Homo sapiens: one gene and its partners. The protein of the gene in region 1 purifies or fractionates together with the protein of each later gene. This does not show direct contact. Each region holds a gene or a part of one and is shown in the gene's direction. Other genes may lie near its edges.

Region 1 (8,759 bases):
AAATGTTTCTCCTTATTTGCATCCTCAGGTACTTTTCCAGTTGTATTTCAAAACCCTTCATAAAACATAATATGGAAACATAATGCATGTGATTAGTTTAGCAACAGGAGGTTGAATAAATGTATTTCTTTTGGTTTATGTTTCTAATAAAAAGTAATTTTGATTTAAAGTAGCACTATCTTTTTTTTTAGGCCTCCATTCCTTTGAAGGAATTGGAGCAGTTTAACTCAGATATACAAAAATTGCTTGAACCACTGGAGGCTGAAATTCAGCAGGGGGTGAATCTGAAAGAGGAAGACTTCAATAAAGATATGGTAAATTGGTTGTGATAAAAGTGTGAATGAACTAGGAGTGGAAATAAATATTTGGAAAGAACTTAGATAAGTCTCCAACTGAATTTTCAGAGCACATATTACACATTTTATGATTCTAATGAATTTTATAAATGCAGAATATTCTTGGCCTTTTATTACAAATGCTGAATTACTATGGTATGGTAATATAGGAGCACTTACGGTTTCTAATAAATAGCCCAGCAATTTTCTTTTGACCTGACCTACTTTTGAACTTATCAAGGGCAAAATGTAATTGGAAAAAAGAGTCGAATCATAAAATAAACTAAAAATTTAATAAAATACTCAACTATCATAGATGACTGACATTTTGTATCAGCAATGTTTTTGGTAGTATAACATTTATTTCAATGAAGAGAGAATAATGCATAATATGAACATTATTTATTACAATTTCCCACAAAGTTGTTTTACCAAATAGTTGTTTAGTTAGTACATTATATGTCTAAAATGTGTATAAATTCATGCTGCTTATTTCATGGGAGTAAAGAAATATGACCATGTGTGCTCTTCCCAACCTCAGAATATTCTCCTTCAATCCCAACTAATTTCAAAGTATCTACTACATTTCTCTCTGGCTTGAATATTTGTACATCACATCCTTATTAACTGACTTTTTTTTTCTCTCTTCATCCTCCTTTTCACAATTTTTTCCCCTCTTTCACTGCCATCACCTCTGTGGCATTCTTAACCTTTACAATTACCAGTGCTAGAGCCTTCTCAGACAATGCTTGAAAGTGACATCAGAAGACAATATATAAATTTTAGGTAATAAGTGTGTGAAGCAATAGGAGAACTATTCCCACCAATCTTAGTTCCCACTTCCTGGAGCTGCCTCAATCAATACTCCCCATGTATGGGGTTTGGTGGCCTTGCCAACTCAGCTTGTGGAAAGACGGAAGAGGCTTTCCAAGTTGCTGAGTTACAGCAATCTCTACTTCAGGTCAAAGAAGAAACTAGAGGGCACCAAGATGAAAAAAAGTACTGATTACCTCTTGGGCTGACCCCAACTCTGCCCTAGAGCCCTCAACTGGTATAGGGAAAGAAGTGAAGTGGGTTTTTTAATTTTTTGTTGTTTTTGTCCTCAGCCCTAGAAAATGCTACAGACTTTTACAACACCTTTTAAAATAAGTAAAGTCTTTTACAGACTATAAGTATATGATGTGTCTATATTATGATAAGTATATAATGTGTCTATATTATGCCGTATGTTTCTTTAGATTATTGACCAGTCTCTGACAAAAATAATCCCTTTCCCCCATACAAAATGAATCAGTCCTCAGTTGCGTGTTGAAGTTTATGCATTATAGATTTAAATATATAACATCTAATTCCTTGAATTGTAATACACACATACAAATACTTGTGACTTTTGAAATTTATTATTTGTTTTCCTTATGTCATCAGTGTACCTTGAGTACCATTACAATGTGAGACTACTTGATACAAAGTTTTCACATTCTGAGTTGAAAGAAAGAAAACTAAAGGTGAAAAATCACATGGTCATATATGCGACTATATTAGACCAGCATTTATTCAAAACATTTTATTTCTAAGTAAAGAAAATTAAGATATTGTTCTTGCAGCCTAAAGGAACAAAATACCCATTGAAAATGTTTAAAGCCATTTTCCAGTCCATATTTTAGTATTATTTGATCGTATTTAAATTAACATGCATATATGACATATTTTAGAAATTATTTGATGGTAACTTAGCACATGATTTTTATTAATATCCTGATATTTCTCCTATTAATATTGAGCATTTAGGTTTCAGAAATGAAGCAGGAGTTATTAGATAGGAATTAGTGTACATTTAAATCAAAATATTTTCATGTAGTTGTGTGTTAATATTTTCAGATTTGCTGTTATCTCAGTCACAAATACACATCTGTATTCCTTTATGGATCAGTTAACATTATAAATGATAACTTTAGCTCATTTCTCTAATGTTTTAATTTCTAGAACTACACTAAAAAAGCCAAAAGAATACTTTCACAGTAATTCATGACTTGTCTGACATGATGAAGTACCACACTCCCCCATCTTTCTACAGGTGCCCCTAAAAATGTGTTCTTTACAACTAGATGGGAGGAAACTTATTTTGAAACCTCAAGTACCAAATGTAAAAGAAAGGCTATGAGCACAGTATCTTATAATAGCATTCCATGAAAGTTTTAAATTGGATTTTTGTGTGTGTTTAAATAACATGTCTTATTATCTCTGTTAACAATGTACAGCTTTTTAAAAACCAAAATGAAGACTGTACTTGTTGTTTTTGATCAGAATGAAGACAATGAGGGTACTGTAAAAGAATTGTTGCAAAGAGGAGACAACTTACAACAAAGAATCACAGATGAGAGAAAGCGAGAGGAAATAAAGATAAAACAGCAGCTGTTACAGACAAAACATAATGCTCTCAAGGTATTAGAGCTAAAATTATAATATACCTTGCCTGTGGTTTTTTTTTAATATATAGGGTAAAATATAATGTGCATTAATAAAATCTGCTTCAGACTTAGTCATCAGAAACTCACTTTTTCTGTTCAATGTGTATGCTTTATTTAACATTTTTGAGTGGTATTTGATTTTGAACGATGTGTTGCTTAAAAGTTATGGCTTTTTAAAGACATATTTTTCTAAGTAGTAATTGAAAGATGGGAATGCATTCATAGTACTTATACATTTAATTTTCTAATGTGCTTTATTTTTATCAGCTACTTTATATTGAAAAAAACCTGCCTAACTGCCAGAATAACCGATCTACATGTATCCATTATTCCTGCTTTCTTTACTTAATTGATTTTGCTTGCATTAGGTCCAATTTTTTGGTAACCTGATACTTGTTTAATAAGCCCTAGATTCTTTTATTTATTTTTAAAACTTTATTATGCCTTTAAGAAAGTCACTCTTTGCAACTATCTACAAAGTCAAATTTCATTTATGTAGGAATCCTAAAAAATAATCTTAGTGCCCTTGAATAAGAACTGCTACTTTCATATTAAGCAGTGTAGTGTATGGCTTCAAGTCCCCAGGTGACTCATCTGGTTTGTGCAGGAAGAGCAGGATAAACTTAATTTTTCTATAATAATATCTAGGAAGTTCTTGAGACTAGACATGTGGAAAGTTTTGTGAAACTTTTTTTTTGTATATGCTTTGCAATAATCACTATTTGCATGCATGGCTGATTTTCTAATACTTTTAATTGCTGAGCTTTTCCTTGTAAATCACTCTTTTGAGCTATGTAGTTATGAAGGTGGATCCACCTAGCAGGTAGATGGAGTCTGCTTTCTACATGCAAATAAGAGAATAAAACCTTTCCCCCTATAGTCAACCAAATAAACACTGCTGAGAATGTAATTACACAATATTGTGCCTGCAAGGAATCCACAAGGAAAGTCTAATTGGCCAGCAGGTGTTCTGAAGGTAACTGCTGATAAATATAGTAAACAGAAAAGGCCTCTTCCTCGAGGGAGTGCAAAAGCACACCATAATGTGTCTAGAAAATCGGAACGCTATGTAACTCACACCCTTCCAACTGTGAGCAAGCTTTCAGAAGTATCTACACTGGTCGTATGATGGTGTGTGTCCTACTGAATAGCAGTGTTTAATGGTCATCTGGCATTCCTCTAAAGAAATCTACATGACATCTCTAAATATTTTACATATTATACATCACTTTGTGCTTAGGAAATGAAAGATGTTTCAGATTGATGACCACCAAGCCCTTTCTCCTGGCAAAGATGTGAGTTATGTCACAAATAAGGCATGGCTCAACTCTAATTCACGTGGCTGTATCTTGCTACCTTTGAAAAAAGCAGCGTTCGATCTGACTCCTCAGAAGGTTTGAAAATTCAACATAAAACATAAAGTACAGCAAGGTTTAAATTCCCAATTTTAAACAAACTAGATAATGAAATGTAGTTCATTCTTGCAAATACAGGCTATAAGTGATTAATCAAAATCGTCAACACTACTCGCCAAACCAATCTATACCAACATATTCAATAACTTTTTAAACCTGTCAAATAGTTCCAATTCTGGTCCTTATGAAATATTTTAGAGAAGGTCAAAATTTTCCAATGGAATGAAATTTTTAGAAATTCCCTGATATTTATTATTTTTTCGCTCGAATTAAACCTGTGAATAAAACCCTAATTGCTACTTTCTGTAGAAATGAAAGCTGCATGCAGAGCTTATGTTCCCATGAATTATAAAATGGCATTTTGAGTAATTCTATTAATCACAGAAGATATTGAGTGTGCTTGTAAAGAGCATGATGACTGATTTCCTCCCATTGTTGATTTATTAAATTAGTCTTATCACATTGATTTGAAAGCATGCACTTGCTGTTTTCTTTTTTCAAATAGTTAATTGTTTTGCATTTAGAGCATGATTTGGTATAGTAAGATAAATGTGGCTATGCAAGCCTTGGAAGGAGAAGCATTTATCTCACATAATTTTTTATTAGTTATGTTCACCAATATACGAACAGTGGTGACACTTCTACACATACAGCTTGGAACAGTTTATAAGACAACTAAAATGGCTTTATATTTCTAATCATAAAATATTAATGGCCTATGAAACTCTTATGTAGGCATTTCTAAAAACATGAATGTATATTGGTTGAGTACATAAAGTTTTGTTGATGAGCCCCAAGGCTAAAGATATACATTTTAGAATTTTACCTATTTTAAGTCAGATACAAACTCACTAGGTTTGTGAGTTTGTATCTAGTTAAGTCAATTGTATTCGTATATTAAACTCTTGCACATAAACTACACAACAGTTAGCTCATTAAGAGTCAATTGAATGTGACAAAATTTTTAAGCAAGTTTGAACATGCTAAGAGAAAATACTTTAAGTGTGTTATTCAGGTTTCTTAGCTTCCTATACATGGGTCCCGCCTCATGCATAGGCAATTTAATTATGTCTTTGTATATTTTGCATTTAAATATGATTTTAACCTAAGTTGTACAAAAAGATGAGGGACGCAAATTATTTTGATAAATAACTGCAGCCAGAAGTGCACTATACATATATATTGATATTTTAATAATGTCTGCACCATGAACAGGATTTGAGGTCTCAAAGAAGAAAAAAGGCTCTAGAAATTTCTCATCAGTGGTATCAGTACAAGAGGCAGGCTGATGATCTCCTGAAATGCTTGGATGACATTGAAAAAAAATTAGCCAGCCTACCTGAGCCCAGAGATGAAAGGAAAATAAAGGTAATGTTGTTTTAGAATGTCAATACCAGATTTTATTATACAGTTTAATTAACCTGTGAAGATCATATTTAAAATGTTGATGTTCTTGTTTCTATTAACGTTCTCTTTGATTTGATGCATTTCCTTGTATTGTGTGTTGTTTTCAGTAAATGTATTGTATTAAGTGTTATTCAATTGACGTAATGTTGAATGAATAAAATGTTTTAGACTATGTAAAGTGATTTAAGAAATGTGATGTGTTTTCTGGTAAAATTGTAATTGACTTTGTGTATCTTTGTTCCAGATGAACTAATGACTTATCGGTATATGGACGACTTCTTACTCATGTTAGCCCATTCATTTCATCAGAGCATCTTCACACATCAGTGTTCACTCTCTATAGATTTATTTGCATATTGTCTAAATATGTTTTTTTCTGTTATTATTTTACACTTTTTATTTTGCTTCATTCTCTGTTGAGTTCCTCAAACCTTTAAAAAGGAAATAAATAACTTATTCACTTACCCTCTAAATTATATTCTATGTGGACGGTCCCTAATAAATAATGAGTTATCACTCCAAATTGTTTCAAATCCCAAGACACCAGAGGAATTTAGAAGAAAGAAAATGTTAGACCAATTTCAATATTTACTTAATTAGAATATCTAAAACCAAGCATTCAAAGGATAACTGAAATAATATTTGGGTTATTGAGCGAGGATGACAGTCATGCCTTTCATATTTGTAAACTTCAAAGGATGACAATAAAGGGACAACAGCCTTTGAAATTTTGAGAGAAGTATTTGCTGCTTGCAAGTCGGTTGATGTGGTTAGCTAACTGCCCTGGGCCCTGTATTGGTTTTGCTCAATAGGAAATTGATCGGGAATTGCAGAAGAAGAAAGAGGAGCTGAATGCAGTGCGTAGGCAAGCTGAGGGCTTGTCTGAGGATGGGGCCGCAATGGCAGTGGAGCCAACTCAGATCCAGCTCAGCAAGCGCTGGCGGGAAATTGAGAGCAAATTTGCTCAGTTTCGAAGACTCAACTTTGCACAAATTGTGAGTTGTTACTGGCAAACCCACGTATGTGTTTGCAACTACTACTCTATTAACAGAGGCCTACTAATAAAAAAAAAAGAGACAAAAAATCTGGGTACAGTTTTAAACTTCTAATGTACATTCTGAAAGTGAGTGGTTTCCCTCACTTTGGGCTTCTGTAACACTAGTGCTTAATTTTGCCAATTAAAGACACAAGAAATTAACAGATAACAGGGAAAACCCCTTATCAAAAATGAAAATACATCTTAATTTTTTTTGCTACATCATTTTTCATAACATTGGCAATGTTAATTTGTCAATTTATCATACATTCACTTTACTTCAATGTCTAATCCAAAAAATATGTATTGCTTTCCTGAGATCATCCCATGCTGATTTTACTTTCTTAATGTATACATGATAAATAATAAATATTTCATGGTACATCTTATGTCAACCTGCATAAGCCATTATCTCATTGACTTGAAGAATAATAGCTTAATCCTCACACCTGGTTTAACTACTTAATGGGTTACAGTGCCCATAAAAGAACTGGATGCCTAGTAAGATGGTTGCTAATTGATTGCAGATTGAACAATATCAGATAATGTTATTACTGAAATGTTACCAGCCAAAACAAAAAGGAGTGACTGCTCTTCTTTCAAACAACTGAATGGAAAGTGTATGGTTCTCTCTTTAAAAAGGCGATTCAGAATTGTTAGCTTGGTCTCACTTCTTTATTTGTAGTAGGTATAAACCATAGAGGTTTTCTGACAGGTACATTTTTGTTCCTATTATTAACACTTGTAAGATGAAGAGGAATGATCATCATCTGTAATTATAGAAGAAAGTACTCCTCACAAAACCAGGATGTCAAAATCTGGAAACTAAGTCTTTATAGTTAAGTTAGGTTGAATTATATGAATCAAACAGATACTCAACCATTTTGCCCTATGTAAATAATAACTGCATAGGGTTCAGCCCATGTATGAGACTTCTTGGGAACTTCTTCTGTGATAGTGTCAGTTCCATTTAATTTGGTGTATATTTTTAAAATGTCAAAAGCAGTTACCATAACTTAATTTTATAAGCATATAAGGGAAGTATGTTGCATATTATTGTGACTTCTTTTAATACTTCAAGAAAATTAATAAATACACTGTTTTCTGTTAAATCTAATACCCTAAAGTTTAATAGCAGGTGAATTATTCTGAGCAATTGGAAGAATACGAGAAATAGCGAAACTGTATTGCATGTGAAGTCTAATTCCACCTGGCTGAATGTTTCAGCCTATTATCCTTCATATTAGATGTTATGAATGTAATGTGTCATAAATAACCTTACACTAACCAGCAAGCCTGTGTCTGCAGATGCAAAATGAAGCGAAAGATTAAGGCAATCAAAAAGAAAATTCTAATAAAATAGTTTCACCTCAATTTAATAGATCATTCAAGGGGGAGTCCTTTGCTTTGAATTATCTGACTACTAACTCATTTCTCCATTCCAATTTTCCCCAGGTCTTGACACACCCAATATGCAGGTTTAAAATTCGTTACAAACTAATCAAGTTGCTAATGCTTTATGGCTAAATAGGCACAGGATCAAAAATCTCCATAAACCACTTACTTAAAATGCCATTATGTCCCTATTCATAGTAGGCTCTCAACAAATATTTGTACAACGTAATAATGACTGGTGAAATAAAGGAAGCATGTGTGAACCAGTATATATTTTTAAAAAATTGTAGTAAAATTCTGGGATATATTTTCCTCATAAACGATTTATTCTTAAGTTTTATATATTAAAGATCCAAAATTCAGAATGTGAAGGGGGCTATTTTTGTGTTAACTCTTAATTATCCATGATAATAAAGTAATCACAATCTGTATGAAGAATAATCAATTTAATATTGCAGTTATATTTGGCATCGTATTTTAATTAGAACTGAGGGATAATTGATAGATGATAAGTAGGTATATAGGTTGGTAGGTAGATAGATAGACAGGTGGGTGTAGAAATATTCAAGATACATCTTTATACTTGACCAATTGTCAATGCATTTTAAAACTAATTTCACTGTGGCCACTGATTAGAGTTATCTTTCCCAATTCTTACGCCCTAGAGTCATTTGTGATAGTCACAGTAACAGCTTAATGAAAA
Region 2 (8,759 bases), about 87 Mb from region 1:
CAGCCCCTGGGAAGGGACGTTGGTGGTCCCCACCTCCCCTATCACCATACACAGAACTCCAACCTTCAGCTCCTTTGCTAGAAATAAAACACACTGCCTCACAAATGCTAGTCAGAGACCATTACAATATAATGCAAGCAGTCGTTCCAACTCTTGGGTCCCAGCAGAATGTGGTAGTTATAAAAGAAAAATGGTGTGAAATACTGAGAGCATTAGTGAAGGCTCAGCCATCTTCAATTCATGGACTTTGTTGCTTATTGTTCTACAGTTTACTCTGCTGGTGTCTGGGTAATCGGCCTGTAAGTTGGATTCTGACAGTTGGCGGTTGTCTCTGCTCTCCTTGTGCCCCACCCACTATTCACCGCGGAGCCTTACGGTTTCTGTCCCAGTGTGGTTTGGCAGAGCAGTGGATAAAGAAAGTGAGCAAGAGACAGAACTGGTTTCTGAAGGCTCTAGAAAGGAATAGTTAGCAAAATCAATGAAATAAGGGAACTGGCCCTGGATTTTCTGTCTCACAAAAGATCTCCTTTCTGGGAAGTTGCTTTGAATTGGTTTGAGTATGTGAAAAAGGTGTGCTTGAGAGGAGCACGGTTCGGGGAGAATTGCTTCAAGCTGTGGACCCTTCTCCAAATCTTAAGTGTAGTCCATGATGTAATGATAATAATAATAGCTAACATTCGTTGAGAATTTCTTCTGCATTATACACTGTGCTAGGCATTTTATGTGGAGTATATTATTTAAATCCCACTACATTCCTGAGGCTAGGTTTGGTTAGTTATCCTCAGGTTACAGGTGAGACAGATGAAGCTGGGGCTTGCTGACTTTCCCAAGGTCATGCAGCTGGTGATTGGTGGGAAAGTATTCAAACCCAAGTCTATCTGCTTCCAAAGCCTGGCCTCTTAGCTGCTCTGCCATCCTGCTTCCCATGAGGACATGGCCACAGCCTTAGCACTCACTGGTGAAGCTGGATCAATAGTAGCAATGGAACTTTCCAGTTCCAGGATGAACAAAGGCAGTTAGAAGAAACTTATCTTTGGGGACGGAGCGTGCAAAGGCCAGCAGAGGCAGGTCTCAGACCCAAGGAGGAATGGTTTCTTGACTCTTGTTTGTCCATTTCCCAGCTAGCCTGAGATGTTTTTGGTGTCATCAGTTGGGCTGACCTGTCTCTCCAGTCTGCTTTTATAGAGAAACTGTTGTCATTTCCACAGCTGCCTAATGGTTGGAGGCAAGGCATTGTGTGAAGCTCTGGAGACCCAAAGAGGCATAAGTCACAGTTTTAGTCTTCAAGGAACTTAACAATCTTGCATTTGTTAACATAAATGCCAGATGATGCAAGCGAGTGTATGCCCGTGATGAGTGTTACAGAGTTCTGAAGTGAGGGCGAGAATTTAGAGGCGAATTTCCACTGGGTGTGATGAGGCCATGGCGGCGATTCAGAACATCAAGAGTCCTCAGTTGTGTTTATTTACTAGATCATTCCAGTTTCAGGGCTAAAGATTTGACAGAGATGATGCAGGTTCAGTTGACATTTATAAGCTGCCTTCGAACTCACAGGCTGTGTTTCTTTTTAATGTTTGTTTTTACTGCAGATTCTTTTTCCCTCTTCTTGACCTATTTGGGCCTTTCTAAGGCTGAGGCTGAAGTGGAATTGACTTTCATTCATGTGGAATGATCATTCTCACTGAGAATTGACCCCAACTTTTGTTTTCCAATGCCATTGAGAAGGCCTAGAGAGAGATCTCAAGTAGTAAAATGAAGAAGGGAACTGCTGTTATTATTTCTGCTTTGTTTCCTTTGATTTCTCCCTTGGCCTTCTTTTCCTTCCCACCACCCTCTGCCCTTTCATCCTTGCACCTTGTGATGCTGTGTGGCTGCCACTGAAGAGTATTATGCTCTTTTTGGGAGAATTCCAAGGATACTGCCTCCTCAGAACTGGCTTGGTCCTGTTGAGTCACGCATTAGGGCTTCAGAGGACCAACCTTGGCTCCTGTGGAGGAGGGACCTCTGAAAGCTGGCATTTATGGCCCCGGGTGCTGTGAGTACCTCCCCATTTAACTCCTGTGCCAACTCATAACTGGAAAGTGGGTTTCTCAGAGCTGAAAGGAAACATAAGGATCAATCTGAGGACTTTGGGCCTGAATGCTAGGCCTCTCCCTGGGCCCTGGGGTGGATAAGTGTCTTAATTCAATTCCATCCAGTGTGATGAGCATTTATTGGGTATCTGTTATGTGCCCTCTAGAAGCTGGCCGTCTGGCAGGAGAGAAAGGCTTACATCTGTGACACATTTCTAGGATAACATAACGTGGTGTTGTTCAAGATGCTATATTATGGTGCACTCTCTACTACTGTGTAGAACAGGACTGGAATAGTGAGGGAAGGTAGCACTTGAGCTGAGCTTTGAAGGCTGAGTGGGGTTTGGCTTCATGGCAAGTGCTGGCATCTGAAGGAACATCATGAAGAGATTGCTGGGGGCCAGAGAATAAATCAAACTGGAGTTTGGTGTTCTGTCAAATTTTGTTGATCAATTAATACCCTAACTATGTACCCTCAGCACGGGACTGGAGCTTCCTTTAGTGGATCTCCAAACACTGCAGGAGCTGCTGGGTGGTAAGCACTGGAGCAGGTTTTAGAAGCAAAGTCACCTGCTCTCCTTGTGTTACATGTTTCAGTATATGGAAACACACACACACACACACACACACACACACACACACACACACACACACACAATCCTTGCTAGTACAGGGGAAACTTGGGGCAAGAATGTGGACAGTGAATGGTGCAAGCTACATTAGAACGCACGTCTACCCTCCCAGCTTATCCAATTGCAAGGGAAACCAGCAAGAGACTGGAACCTCCTTGCGCCTAGTACTTAAACTTAACCTAACATCCTCTGGGAGGCAAAGGCCAGCATAGGGGAGGCGAGGTTGGGAGAAGAGGGAGGAAGCTGGAGTTCTGTTTTTCCTAACAGTTAACTGCTCAGGTTCCCAGCTTTGAAGGGATTAAAGATCCAGGGGTGATGGTGGGGAGAGGAGGAAGCAAAATGGGTAGTGGAGAAAAGAAACAGTGAGGATCCTAGAAGACATTTGTAGACTTCTACCCACTGAGGTATTATGAACTTCAAATTCCCCAAGTGAGGTTTCTCTCCTGACTTTACCTCTCTGTCTCTTTCCTCCTAGATGAGTTTTAAAATCCCACTGCAGATATTTCTGCGGAGTGTTAGCACTAGCATGGTGGCTCTTAACCTTGGCTAGGCAACAGAGGCATCTGTAGTGCCTTCTCAAAATCCAGATTCCTGGGCCACACTCCAGACCTGGGGGAGATGGGAGTACAAAGTAGAGACCTAGATTTTTCATAAGTTCCCCAGTTGATTCTGATGCCCGCTGAAGCGAGGACCCCTGCCCTGGTGTGGTGTGTTAGGGACACTGGTCCAAGGCTTCCTCCCTGGAGTTCTGCCCTGCAAGCTGGCTCCCTCCCCCCTTCACCCTCCTCCCCTTCACCTGGGCACCTGTAGAAACTTAAGTAGTGAAGTCTTCTGTTTTATGTCACAGCTTCTCCTTAGTTTCTTTTCACCATCAGTCCCGGGGGATTCTCAGGAACATTCTCCCGATATCCTGAAGCTGTTGGCACCTCACCCTAGATTAAAGGAAAACGTAGAGTCAATGACTACTGAAGTTACCAGCCATAATCTACCAAGGTTGTTACAGGTAAAACTCAACTCACCCAGCTCGCTCGTGACGCTTCGTTTGGCTGTTTTGTGGGCAAACGTGGGGAGTGAGCCCTCCCTCTCCTATTTTGGTTCCTGAGAAAGAAGAAATTGAGTCACTAGTGGTTCTGTTCTTTGCAAAGAACCTCTTAAAGATGCAACTGTGAATTTCAGGCATGGTCCCAGAGTTTATTCATTACATTGAAAAAAAATTATGAAACAGGGTCTCTTTCTATCACCCAGGCTGGAGGGCAGTGATATGATCATGGCTCACTGCAGCCTCAGACTCCTGGTCTCAAGAGATCCTCCCACCTCAGCCTCCCGAGTAGCTGGGACTATAGGCACGTGCCACCATGCCTGGCTAAGTTTTTTTTTTTTTTTTTTTTTTTTTTTTGTAGAGACGGGGTTTCACCATTTTTGCCTAGGCTGGTCTCGAACTCCTGGCCTCAAGTGATCCTCCCACCTTGGCCTTCCAAAGTGCTAGGATACATTTTTTTCCAGTTCTTGGTTAGATCCAGCCGAGAGAGATTTTACAGAGCTAGAAAGGAATTGGCTCACTGCCCCTGGGCCATACCATTTGGGTGGGTTTATAGGCTTTGGGGATGAGTCTGGGAAGAGGGCCTAACAATCCCTCCTTTCGAGCTTTTGTTTGTTCAAGCTGCTGGCCTTTGAGTGCCAGCACTTATCCTGTGCAAAGACAACTCTGATCCTCAAATGGATGTAATTTCATATTCCTGCACTATGCCTTATACATAAGTAAGCTTCCAATACGTATTTGTAACAGAGAAGAGGAAAGAGATGTTGGAAAGAAAGTTGAGTTGAAGGACCTGGGAGGAAGACAGGTATTTGTACCTTTCTTTGAAAACCAGGAAACAGAACACAAGAGAGATGGGTTCCAGGCCCTGGCTTTCCCGGCAGAGGGTAAGTGGTCAGAAGTTGAGGATCAGAAGCGCAGACTCCAAGGCAGAGTTTAGCACTGAATGCCTGGGCATCTTTAGGGGGCAGTTTTCCCTCCATTCATGCCCGGTGTTCTTCTCCTGTGTGTAAGCCCTGGGCTCTCATAAAAGGACTGAAATGCAGGTGCGCCCAACTTTTCTTAAAAAATGGCAGAACTTAGAGGATCTCCTGAAATCACAGAACCCCCAGTGATTTCAATAATTAAGATCACTATTAAATGATTGAGAATGCTAATACTGAACCCAAATGCCTGGAGTGACTTCTAATTGCAGCTCCATCTGAAAAGAAGAAAAACAGCAACCTTGGCTTTCCAATGTCAACCAGCTGGGGAACAAGGATTGGATTTCCACCCAAACTTTGCTTTGCAAAGCAGTATACTCCTGAGTGGCCAATGCCTTGGGTTCATGGAAAGTCAAGGTTGTAGTATTGCTGTAGTGCTGGAGAAAACCCCAACTCCCAAGTTAGACACAGAGAAAACCCACATTATTTTTGTCCTCACCTCATTGTTTTCTCCCAGCTATATGCTCCCCTTTTTCACCTGTCTGCCAGTTTTTTTTTGGTAGGGTTAGAGGGAAACAACACGATGAGTATCTTGACCTATGGACTATGGGTTTAGATTAGAGAGGGGTTCTCCATGTAAATCTGCATAAACATGTTGTTATTGCACTTATTTCTAAATCCTTTTTCAAATATCCATCTCCTGGGAAAATATTCTTGAAAAGGCTAGAGACATTGTTGATTTTTTTTGCCAGGTGATTTTGTCTTTTTTTTTTTTTTTAATGCTTTTCACCCCAAATCTAGTAAAAGGAATAGTTTGTACCTTGTTCATTTGACCAGTGTAACATACAGACCTGGAGCATGAGGTAACTTGGCAGGCCTGTGAACAGACCTGTGCCAAAGCCCTACCAAAAGTCCTTTTGGAGCTGGAGTTTGGGGATCGCAGACGGCCGTGAATGGCAGTGAGGGCGAGAGGAACTATTGAGTGACAGGATCTGCCGTCACTGCCTGCCTTGGTTTTGCTAAAGTGGTTACTGGGGAAGGATTTTATAGGAAGGGGAACTGGTGCCTATCCCTGGCATTTCCCCTTTTTACACCTGCCCAAGGAGGCTCTCCTCCTACATACCTTCCTGTCCTTGCCTAAGGAAGTTCCCTAACTCCACCCAAGCTGGGAATGCCTTGGTTGCAGATACTGTGCAGAAAAGAAGTAGGAAATAATGCCTTATGACGGCCCCCAAGTTGAGCTCTGTGTCCACTATGAGTTCGGGGTGGGGATCAGGACTCTATAGTTTCCCTTTGTTCCTCTGGGTAGGAATATGAGAGGACAATATTAGTCCTAAGAAGATTCTGATATGTGGCCCTTTCTTCATCCAGGACAATCTGGAGCTCCCACATTGTTCTAGTCAGGAGGAAGCAGCAGCCAGGGGAGATGGCAGCAGTCTGATGGACCCAGCTAAAGTGAAGGGGGATGGTCAGCAGCACCACATGAAAGACCAGGAAGAAGAGGAGGAGAAGTGGGATGCTACCTCTCCAAAAGCTGCTTCCAGCAAGACTGGAAAATGCCAGGAAAAGAAAAGGAAACATTGCCAGATTGAATCCCAAGAAGAAACGGGGATGCCTAATAAAGCCTCCAAGCAAGGTACTGGCTCTACCCAGAGAGAAGGTAGCTTGGAGGAGATCCCCGGGCTCACCAATATATACAAGTTACTTACCTCTGTCTGGGGGCTCCTTAGGCTCTGGGTGTGGGGCCCAGCTCTGGCATTTACTAGCTGTGTGACCTCAGAGATTGCTATGAGGCTTCTGTGAGATCATGTACAGTGCCTAGCACACTGTAAAAAGTGTTCAATACTAATTATTAATATAATGGAAAGCCAAGGCATCAGGTCAAGCACAGTATCAACTAATGACATCCCATACCCATGGGGATGCCACTTCCTTCTAGGTCAGCCTCTTGCTACCCCCATCCCCATTCTAGGAATGCAGGATGAGGAAAGTGAGGTCAGGCCTCACCCTGCTCATTCCCAGTTGTGTTCCCATAGGTAGGCATGTGAGAAGCAGCAGCTGTGGCTTGCTATCTTTCCACGAGAGGTTGGCAGTGCCAAGATTCAGTTTTAGCTTTGAAGGCCTGGCTCAGTCCATTGAGTTGCTGTAGCTTCTGCTGTTGACAGAGGTGCATGTTGCATTTGAATGAAGTCCCCAGGGCTCCTGGACATTGTTTGACTTGCATTTCTCTTTCTGTTGGGCCTGCTGGAAACCTCTGAGAGCCTACTTCTGAGTGTCCCATTCTCAACGGCTCAGGTGTCCACTAAATCAACTCTCTGGGAGGTGGTGGTGAGAGTGGCAAACTGAAAAACGCATTGGATTATTTTGCCTCAGAAGTACTATCTATGAAACCGGGGTGGCTCCAGCGCTGACTTCTTGCTTTCTAAATCGCAGATCCTCCCACTGATCAGGGGGACAAACCTGCTCTCAGTTTACCACTTGCATCTTTCGACGCATCTGACCTTGAATGCGCTCTATGTATGAGGTACGTCCTGTGTACTATCATTTACTTCCTGATGTTTCTTCATCTCTGGTGTCTGGACCTTTCTGCTAGTGACCTACTGCTGGGTTGGTTAGCATGTAAAAAGCATAGCTCTAACGGAATGGAAATCACAACGTTGATTGTCACATGGGTCAGCTTGTGTCCCCTTCCCAGAGACTGCATTCCCTGCATTCCTGGCTCCTGACTTGGAAAAACCTGGAGAGTGGGAAGGGAACAGTCTATTCACAGGTCACAAACTGATGGCCCACTGGGCTGAATATGTCTGAATATGTCTTTTTTTTTTATGTCTTTTTTTTGGAGACAGAGTCTTGCTCTGTTGCCCAGGCTGGAGTGCAGTGGTGCGATTTCAGCTCACTGCAACCTCTGTCTCCCCAGTTCAAGCGATTCACGTGCCTCAGCCTCTTAAGTAGCTGGGATTACAGGCCTGTGCCACCACGCTTGGCTAAGTTTTGTATTTTTAGTAGAGACAGGGTTTCACAATGTTACCCAGGCTGGTCTCAAACTCCTGAGCTCAAGTGATCTGCCTGCCTGGGCCTCCCAAAGTCCTGGGATTACAGGCCACTGCACCCAGTCTGAATATGTCTTTTGTTTGGCCCTCATGGGGTTTGTTTTTCTTAAACGTGAATGTCTTGAGACAGGACATGTACTCTCCATTTGACCACGCCCCCGCCACCCACCTGCCTTATTCCAACCTGTGTGTCACAATTGCATTACATTCTTAGCCCCTAGAGATAATTTAAATTTTGGATCCCAGCACTAATCTCAGTTACATGGGCAAGAGCTCAAAGTTCAAGGACTACTGTCACCACCACAGACTATTCTTGGGAAGCCAAGTGGTGGGCCTGACTAGCTTTTGTTTTGTGTTGTGCCATGAATATTAGTGGTGGGCCTGAGATACTTAGCCAAGTATCTCCCCACCAAACAGTGCCACATCATCTCTACTTTCTCAGATCTCTGGAGAGGCAAATTATTCACATGCTCCCCCACCCCAAAAGAAAGAGGCTATGATTATGGTGTGTGTAACCATACACAATTTTTTAAAATTGCTTACATGTCTTTGATTTCACAGCTGTGACTTACTGGCTTAGAGGAGAGGCTCCCTGCTCTGTCATTTACTGGCTGTTGACCTGGATGGAGCAAGTGACATTCTCTGCTACTGTTTTCTTGTCAGTAAAATAGAGAACAGTGTACCTACTCCATAGGGTTGTCATGATTAATTGAGAAAAATCTGTTTAACACCTGGAATAGTGCCTGGCATATAATAGATACTCAGTAAATGTTAACTATTTTTTTTTCCTTGTAGACCAGAGGTCCAGAAGGAAACTTTGGGTCTATGGACCTCTGAGGATGTTCTATATATGGATTCTAATAGATGTATTAATGTCTCGAAGTTGTATGTTAAAGTATGTGGGTTTTCCAGGACAAGGTCCACATCCTTTAGCAGATTCACAAATGTGTCTGTTTTCCAAAAGAGCATTAAAAGGAGGCTGAGATATTTGCACAAAAATTAAGACGGTTGGCAGGCTGCTGTTCGTTGTGCTGGCGGGTCCTGCG
Region 3 (8,759 bases), on another chromosome or scaffold:
GAGTTATATGGTAGATTGCATATTTAAGGAAGTTAAAGAAAATTGTGTCTTTAGAACTTTGAAGCACTCAAGGCATTGTTTGATTAGTATGACAAGGCATTTTTCCACAGCTCTTTTTTGTATTCTAAGGAAGTCAAAAAGAAAAAAGTGAGCGTGTGTTCTTTCTTTTGTTTTTTACAGTGATGGAGACACAAAGAAATATTTTTTAGTTTCCCCTGTCTACATAGTGGGGATTGTAATTGTTTCTACCTCAGGATATGTTGTGAAGATAAATAAGATAAAGTATGAAAATCCTGTAGAACAGTAAATTCTGGTACATAGTGAATGTATCTCAGTGAATGAATGTATCTACTTTTTTTTTTTTTTTTTTTTTTGAGACTGAGTCTCGCTCTGTTGCCCAAGTTGGAGTGCAATGGCGCAATCTCGGCTCACTGCAACCTCCGCCTCCTGGGTTCAAGCGATTTTCCTGCCTCAGCCTCCTGAGTAGCTGGGATTATAGGTGCACACCACCACGCCCTGCTAATTTTTGTATTTTTAGTAGAGACGGGGTTTCACCATGTTGGTCAGGCTGGTCTCAAACTCCTGACATCGTGATCCACCCACCTTGGCCTCCCAACATGCTGGGATTACAGACGTGAGCCACCATGCCTGGCTCTACTATTTTTATTATCATTATTCATTTGAATCTTTACCAAAAAGTTGTGAGATAAAGTGGTATTTAAATTTCCATACTGAAATGAAATTTGCCCAGAAATATTAATTAACTCGCCTAAGTCATAACTAGTAAGTGATGTTCCAAGGATTTCAGCTCAGGTTTAATTAATCCCAAATAGTAGTGTTGTTTCTATTTTTGCGTTTGTTGTTGTGAAGCAAAGTACCTGTAAGGATTGGGAAGAGAATGCTATAGTGCACAGTGAAAGACTTGAGTATTTTTTCAGCATTTAACAGAAAGCTTCTGTGAATATCTTGTCAACTGGAGAATGAAGCTCCTGATTTCCCTCTAAACTTGTTTTCTCATTATAGACTGATTCTCACAGAGATTTGCTGAATAACTACATTTTATCTAGTGTCTGCTAGCAAAAGTTGATATCATTGTTTGTTTTAGAACTGGTGTAAAACTTGACCTGTATGTTTTTGTTTCAGCTAATGCTTTTAAAGCTTTGTTACAAGAATTTGACAATGCTGTTTTAAGTAAAGAAAACCACATGCAAGGGAAACTAAATGAAAAGGAGAAGATGATCTCAGGACAGAAATTGGAAATAGAACGACTGGAAAAGAAAAACAAAACTTTAGAATATAAGGTTTGTTTTGACATTATTATGATAGATGTATGTGCTGGTGTTTTAGCACTGTTCTCTGAGGGAGATATTGTGCTCCAACGGCCTGTAAATGCTGCTTATTAAGAGTTCTCGGTTGAGTGCGGTGGCTCATGCAGGTAATTCCAACACTTTGGGAGGCTGAGGTGGCCAGATCATCTGAGGTCAGGAGTTCAAGAACGAGCCTGGCCAACATGGCAAAAGCCCATCTCTACTAAAAAAGTACAAAAGTTAGCTGGGCGTGGTGGCGAGTGCCTGTAATCCCAGCTACTCAGGAGGCTGAGGCAGGAGAATCGCTTGAACTGGGGAGGTGGAGGTTGCAGTGAGCCGAGATTGAGCCACTGCACTCCAGCCTGGGCGACAAGAGCAAGACTCTGTCTCAAAAAAAAAAAGAGTTCTCAGGCTGAGTGCGGGGGCTCATGCCTGTAGTCTCAGCACATTGGGAGGCCAAGGCAGGGAGATCACTTGAGCCCAGGAGTTCCAGACCAGACCGGGCAACGTGGCGAAACCCCATATCTACAAAAAAAATTAGCCAGGCATGGTGGTACATGTCTGTAGTCCCAGCTACTCGGAAGGCTGAGATGGGAGAACAGCTTGAGCCTGGGAGGTTGAGGCTGCAGTGAGCTGGGATTGCACGACTGCACTCCAGCCTAGGTGACAGAGCGAGAGCCTGTCTCAAAAAAAAAAAAAAAGTTCTCAATTGGTTGTTTACTAATCCTCATCCCATGCTAAGGAGGAAATGTGAGTGAAATGAAGAATCATATGTTCTTTAATTTTATGAGAGTTTTAACAGTTGAAAAGGATGTTCTCTGACCCAAACAAGGGAGCTTTCTAGAGCTTAGCTTTGGTTGTAGCTTGCTTTTGAATTTATTAGAAATATTTCCTTAGTATGCTTTTTTTTTTTAATGAGATAAATGATTAAATGAAATGGTATAAAAGTGCCAGCATCGGGCCTTGGACGTAACAGATACTCAGTAAAGCTTAATTGGATCTGTATTTGGTTTACAAATCGATTGTAAAAGTATAAACTCAGGATTAATCTCTTACAATGGGGTAGAAGGAAATACCGTTTTGTTGGGAAGCATTGCAGCACTGTGTAATGTATGTCTGTTCTCTCATTTACAGAGGGTCATTTAGAGGTTTGGTGGGGGTACACATTCATAAGAGAAGTTAGTCTCAACCAATATAGTTTTTTTAAATTCTGAAAATAGCCTAAAAACTAAATTTTAGCCCTTAATTTTAGGAGAAAGTAATTTTCACATGAAGTTAGTTGTAAATGTCTTTGGGTGAGGAGCTTGTTTAACATGTTTTCATTTCTGAGAATGGGGGTGGGAATTCAGATGAAATGTTAGAGAAAAAAGTGCTTTCTCCATGATGTTTCTTTCCACAAATATGCTTGCATAAGCAAATTAAGGAAGACTATTTTATAGCGACATGAAATGTTTATATACCAAATATTGAACATAGTGGTCTACCTTCCTAGATTGAGATTTTAGAGAAAACAACTACTATCTATGAGGAAGATAAACGCAATTTGCAACAGGAACTTGAAACTCAGAACCAGAAACTTCAGCGACAGTTTTCTGACAAACGCAGATTAGAAGCCAGGTTGCAAGGCATGGTGACAGAAACGACAATGAAGTGGGAGAAAGAATGTGTGAGTATCGTTTGGGTAGTGCTTGTCTCAGAGTCGGATGATTTATTTTACATTGTAGTTAGGTTCGATATTTTGAATTATTGTATTTGCGGTAGGGTTTTGGTGGTGGTTGTTAACTCTCAGGAAGAATTGGAGAACTGTCATTTTTAGGAAATAAAGAGATTGGGTAATCTGGTGTACTCGTTTGCTGTGATGGAATGATAATATACATTGCCACTGATAATCTGTAGGAGCGTAGAGTGGCAGCCAAACAGCTGGAGATGCAGAATAAACTCTGGGTTAAAGATGAAAAGCTGAAACAACTGAAGGCTATTGTTACCGAACCTAAAACTGAGAAGCCAGAGAGACCCTCTCGGGAGCGAGATCGAGAAAAAGTTACTCAAAGATCTGTTTCTCCATCACCTGTGCCTGTAAGTTATTTGTAATTGTGTAGTAACTTTGTACTAGAGAAATTTTGTTCAGATTAGATGACTATTTCTATGAGGATTTTTACATTTTATAATACTTACATTTCTGAAATTTCTCTAAAAATATTTTAAAATTTAGAATAAACACAAATTTAGCACAAAAAAATAGAACAAATAATTATTTGTAATGTTAAGTCTTCATGTGCTAACATTATAGAAAAGTAATGAATTGTTTCTCTCAGTTTTTCAGTCTTGCTCATTAATTTTTCTCCAATTTTTCTAGCTTTCTAGTAACTATATTGCTCAGATTTCCAACGGCCAGCAACTCATGAGCCAGCCACAGCTACATAGGCGCTCTAACTCTTGCAGCAGCATTTCTGTAGCTTCCTGTATTTCGGAATGGGAGCAGAAAATTCCTACGTACAACACACCTCTCAAAGTCACATCTATTGCAAGGCGTAGGCAGCAGGAGCCAGGACAAAGCAAAACTTGTATCGTGTCAGACAGAAGGCGAGGGATGTACTGGACTGAAGGCAGGGAGGTGGTTCCTACATTCAGAAATGAGATAGAAATAGAAGAGGATCATTGCGGCAGGGTTAGTGCCAGTATTATTTTAACGCATTGTAGCAATAGATTTTATCTTCTTTGTTTTTTGTAACTTGTGTCTGAAAGTTCATTGGAAAAATGGTTGGGCTATAGTATAAAGAAGGTCTAATTTCTCAGTTAATTTGAAAGATTGACTTACGGAAATTGAGGCCTGGCTCCTCATCTGAAAAAGCCTAAACACATCTGGCAGCGGAAGTGTGTTCAGTGAACACAGGTCAGTTTGGTGCATCCCAGAGTAGTCTGAGCTTTTCAGCTGCATACGCTAATAAGCTTTGCACAGAATTGGTGAATGTGTCTTAAAGCATACTTTCCATATTTTTCTTTTGGTTCCCCTTCCCCAAATTAGATTTTTTATACCTCCTTTCATGCCCTAGTTTTAAAAATTGTTTTCCCAAATTTTTATTTTGAAAAATTTCAGACCCAAAGCAAAGTAGAAAGAATAGTATGGTAATGTCTTTCCCTCCTTGCCTAAGTTTACCAATTGTTACTTGATATAGATATGTAAACCTTTTTCCCCTAAGCCTTGTGAAAGGAAATCACAGACTTAGAGACACTTAATCTCTAAGAATAAGGACATTGTACTACCTAGCCACAATCTTTATCACATCCAAGAAAATCAACATTAATTAATTATCCTCTATTGAGACATTGTGCAGTTGTCCCAAAATTGGATTGGCTTTTCTTTTTTTTTTTTTAAAGACAGAGTCTCACTCTGTCACCCAGGATGGAGTGCAGTGGCATGATTATGGCTCACTGCAGCCTCAGTCTTCCTGAGCTGAAGTGATCCTCTCACCTCAGCCTCCCAAGTAGCTGAGATTACGGGCAGGCCACCATGCTAATTTTTTATTTTCAGTAGAGACAAGGTCTCACCATGTTGCCCAGGCTGGTATTGAACTCTTGAACTCCAGCAATCCTCCTGCCTTGGCCTCCAAAGGTGCTGAGATTACAGGCAAGCCACTGCACCAGCCAGCTTTTTTTTCAATCCATGATACTATGAAAGTGTATGCATTGCATATCATGATTATGTCTTTCATCTCTTTTAATATAAAATAGTCTCACCCTGTCCCCCTACTTTTTTTATTTTTATGACATTGACTATTTTCATTGAAGAGTTTAGGCCAGTTATTTTAAAATTACTGATTTCCATGCCCAATAAATTGCTTTTAATCTTGAGGCATTTATCTCAATTTACATTTGCCTCATTCAAGGGTATTTAAATAAATTCACTTTCATATTTTTCTTCTTAAAGATTAAGGTAAAGTTTCTTTTGAATCTGAATAAATGGACCAAGTTAATGTTTGCGAATTTTATATTTAGTAAAATCTTCACAAAGCTCTCTTAGAATATTTCTTCTAAATCTTACAGTAAACATTTACTTTAGATTTTCTTATATAAGTCAGGGTATAGATGAATGTTCATTTATGTGGCCTGAATTCCTGATTATTAAGGGATGGTGATGAATCCCAAGTTATTTACCAGGGAAACAGATGATTCTAAAGTCTCTTAAGTTCTTTACTTTGCAGATTTTTCCTTAAACATTTTTAGACAGCAAATTAGGTAAATGGTCATTCTGACCAACTCTAGTCAGTCATTTTATGAAAGTTTATAGGCTGAAAACTATTCAAGGCTTGCGTATGCCTTGCAAACCGTAATGAGATATCTAATTTGGCTATGAGATATTTAAGGGAATTTACTAGAGATTCTTACGTGAAATCAAAATCTCTTTAGAAGTGCAGCAGAAAAGTTACTGTAAGGTTAGTATCTGTGCATCTAAGTTTGTTGGTCAAAAATTATGTCAGGTGGACTGAATTTATACTTCAGTGAGGAAAAAATTTAAATATTTGTTTCATAAATGCTAGTAGATTGTATGGATTATCATCTTTCTGAAGTGTGTTTCATCATATGCTTATTGTTAAATGTTTGAAGAAAACCTTTGTTTTTGCTAAATGGTAGATGATAAGGACCAGACTTTCTTTCGTGTTCAACATTAAATAAATCATTGTAGGAATGGAAAGTTCCTGTTTGTCTTGAGGCTCAGCATCTTTAGTGGCAAACTGTATTGCCCATGTCTTAGAGCTGTCACTAGTGCTGCATTTGTTTCTTGTTAACTATATAGCGAAAATGATTCAGTTCCTCAGATGTGCATTTTGAAATTGAGGTCTTCATACTTGACTAGCTTTGACAGATTTGGCCTGTGATAGACTTTTTCCATTTGCTTTCAGTTTTGTTTTTTGGGTTTTTTTTTTTTTTTTTTTTTTTTTTTTTTGAGATGAGGTCTTGATCTGTTGCCCAGGCTGGAGTGCAGTGGTGTCATCTAGGCTCACTGCAGCCTTGACCTTCCAGGCTCAAGTGATCGTTCTACCTCAGCCTCCTGAGTAGCTGGGACCACAGGCATGTGCTATCGCACCTGGCTAATTTTTAAATTTTTTGTAAAGATGGGGTCTTCTTACATTGCCTAAGCTGGTCTCGGGTGATCCTTCTCCCACCTCAGCCTCACAAATGTTGGGATAACAGGTATGAGCCACTGCACCCAGCCCTGCTTTCAGTTTTACAAACAGGAGATGTTCATAAAATTCTAAAGATAATTCATTGCTTCAAACTATAACTATGGCATATATGTGACATATTATTTTCTTAGGCTGAATGTGCTTAATTTAGCATTCCCAGGTTTACATGACATTTGACTGGAAGCAACTTGTTTGTTTTTGAGGCAGGGTCTCATTCTATTGCCCAGGCTGGAGTGCAGTGGTGCGATCTTGGCTCACTGCAATTTCCACCTCCTGGGCTCAAGCAATCCTCCCACCTCAACCTCCTGAGTAGCTGGGACTACAGGCACGTGTCACCAAGCCCAGCTAATATATATATATATATTTTTGTTTGTTTTGTTTTGTTTTGTTTTTGTTGAGTCTGGGTTTCACCATGTTGCCTAGGCTGAACTTGAACTTCTGAGTTCAAGTGATTCCTCCACCTCGGCCTTCCAAAGTGCTGATTACAGGCATGTACCACCATGCCTGGCCTAGCAACTAGTCTTTTATTGTGTGATAGAGACTGATTTGACACTGTATTATTTATTTGTTTCTTGGAACCTGTATGAAATGTTTGGGGGAAAAATTAGTTGGTATATTGTAGCCATTACTGTATTTGAACTTTTCATGAAGTTCTATTATGAGATTTTAAAATCTTAACTGAAAGCACTCAGAAGTATTTCACATTTCTTTAATCATTTTATTCATATGGTTCTTATTATACCTATGTTCTTAGGATTGTTTTCTGTTTTGTTTAGAAGCCTAGAAAATGTGTAGGGCTTTCATTGATCTTATTGAAGATTTTAACAGAGTTGTGGACATAATAGATTACCTCTCAATAGCAGGGATAAATATTGGTTTTTGATCAAGAATATGAAATGAGTTGTTTGTCCTGAACCACCCCCAAGCAGGAAAGACTTGCAGCATTACCAGAATTTTTTCTTTTATCCTTTATTGAAAGGGAAACTCCCAGATAGAATGTGTAACATACAAGTTGGTGTTAAAGATGTTTGTTGGTTTTGTGTTTAAATGCAAAGATCATGTTTAAATTACTTGAATAAAATATTTAGCTTTGGAAAGGTTTGCTATGATACTGTCATCAACTAATGTAGCCAAACCTGCTGCACTTCTAATAATACCCTTAAATTAATTCTGGGTTATGCTTGTTTCTCAGTTACTCTTTCAACCTGATCAGAACGCACCACCAATTCGTCTCCGACACAGACGATCACGCTCTGCAGGAGACAGATGGGTAGATCATAAGCCCGCCTCTAACATGCAAACTGAAACAGTCATGCAGCCACATGTCCCTCATGCCATCACAGTATCTGTTGCAAATGAAAAGGCACTAGCTAAGTGTGAGAAGTACATGCTGACCCACCAGGAACTAGCCTCCGATGGGGAGATTGAAACTAAACTAATTAAGGTAAAAAACTAATTTTCACAGGAGAAAAAAATATATTTAAAAATTCAACAAAAGTCCATTTGTCCTGCTACTCCTTTGGTGACACACAGGTAGTGTCAACTGGAACATCAGTAGGTATTTGATATAACCTTTTTGTTAGCAGAAAATTAGTCACTGCTTAGGTTTTAAGTCTGCCAAACTGGGACTAAGTATGCTTTAAATAGGTATAGATTCTTCGGTTTCTTAGAATTCTAGATCCATGATGTACTTTAATTTTTTAATGACTGTATATTTAGTTTTAACCACTACTTAAAGTAATCTAAGCAAAGAATTCCTATTGCTCTCCATCAGTTCAAGATAAAAAAACAAAAACAAAACAAAACGAAACCTATGTTAAAATTTGACCCGTCAAAATTACTCAGTATTGAGCTGCCTAAAGCCGTTTTCCAGAAAGAGACTTGCCTGACTATAGAAGAATTCCCCTTTGATCATAGGGTCAGTGAATAATCAGGAAAGTAAAAGATAAGACCAAAAAAAAAAAAAGCTTTTTATTTCAATTTCAATTTAGAGTTTTTGTTCTTATTATAATTAGCTACAAATAAGACTATACTGTCATTTGAATATGGGCAACAGGGGGCACTCAGAGAAGAAAGTACCATGCCTTAGAGCGTGTAGAAACTTCCAGCAAATTTCTTGATCCTTAGTGCAGTTTAGTTTTTAAATTACAGATGGAGCAAAAGGAATATTTTTTTCTGCAATTATGAATGTTACTGATTACATTGAATTGGACTTCTTTTATTTGTGAGAGATATGTACTCAAATTTCTAAATTATTTTGATAGTA

Evidence for each region.
Region 2: the proteins of DMD (region 1) and LONRF3 purify together in Homo sapiens (affinity purification with mass spectrometry; 2 studies listed by BioGRID and IntAct, with this or other methods). This does not show direct contact.
Region 3: the proteins of DMD (region 1) and KIF23 purify together in Homo sapiens (affinity purification with mass spectrometry; 2 studies listed by BioGRID and IntAct, with this or other methods). This does not show direct contact.

The regions. Positions count from the first base shown.
Region 1 is NC_000023.11:32,339,961-32,348,719, reverse strand, and holds part of DMD (dystrophin), read left to right. Parts: intron 1-191; coding exon 192-314; intron 315-2,639; coding exon 2,640-2,777; intron 2,778-5,433; coding exon 5,434-5,586; intron 5,587-5,869; coding exon of another isoform or gene 5,870-5,878; exon of another isoform or gene 5,879-6,353; intron 6,354-6,437; coding exon 6,438-6,620; intron 6,621-8,759. UniProt on the Homo sapiens protein: Anchors the extracellular matrix to the cytoskeleton via F-actin. Ligand for dystroglycan.
Region 2 is NC_000023.11:118,983,374-118,992,132, forward strand, and holds part of LONRF3 (LON peptidase N-terminal domain and RING finger protein 3), read left to right. Parts: intron 1-3,551; coding exon of another isoform or gene 3,552-3,707; intron 3,708-6,034; coding exon 6,035-6,299; intron 6,300-7,096; coding exon 7,097-7,187; intron 7,188-8,759.
Region 3 is NC_000015.10:69,437,105-69,445,863, forward strand, and holds part of KIF23 (kinesin-like protein KIF23), read left to right. Parts: intron 1-1,143; coding exon 1,144-1,301; intron 1,302-2,799; coding exon 2,800-2,973; intron 2,974-3,203; coding exon 3,204-3,383; intron 3,384-3,663; coding exon 3,664-3,975; intron 3,976-7,685; coding exon 7,686-7,937; intron 7,938-8,759.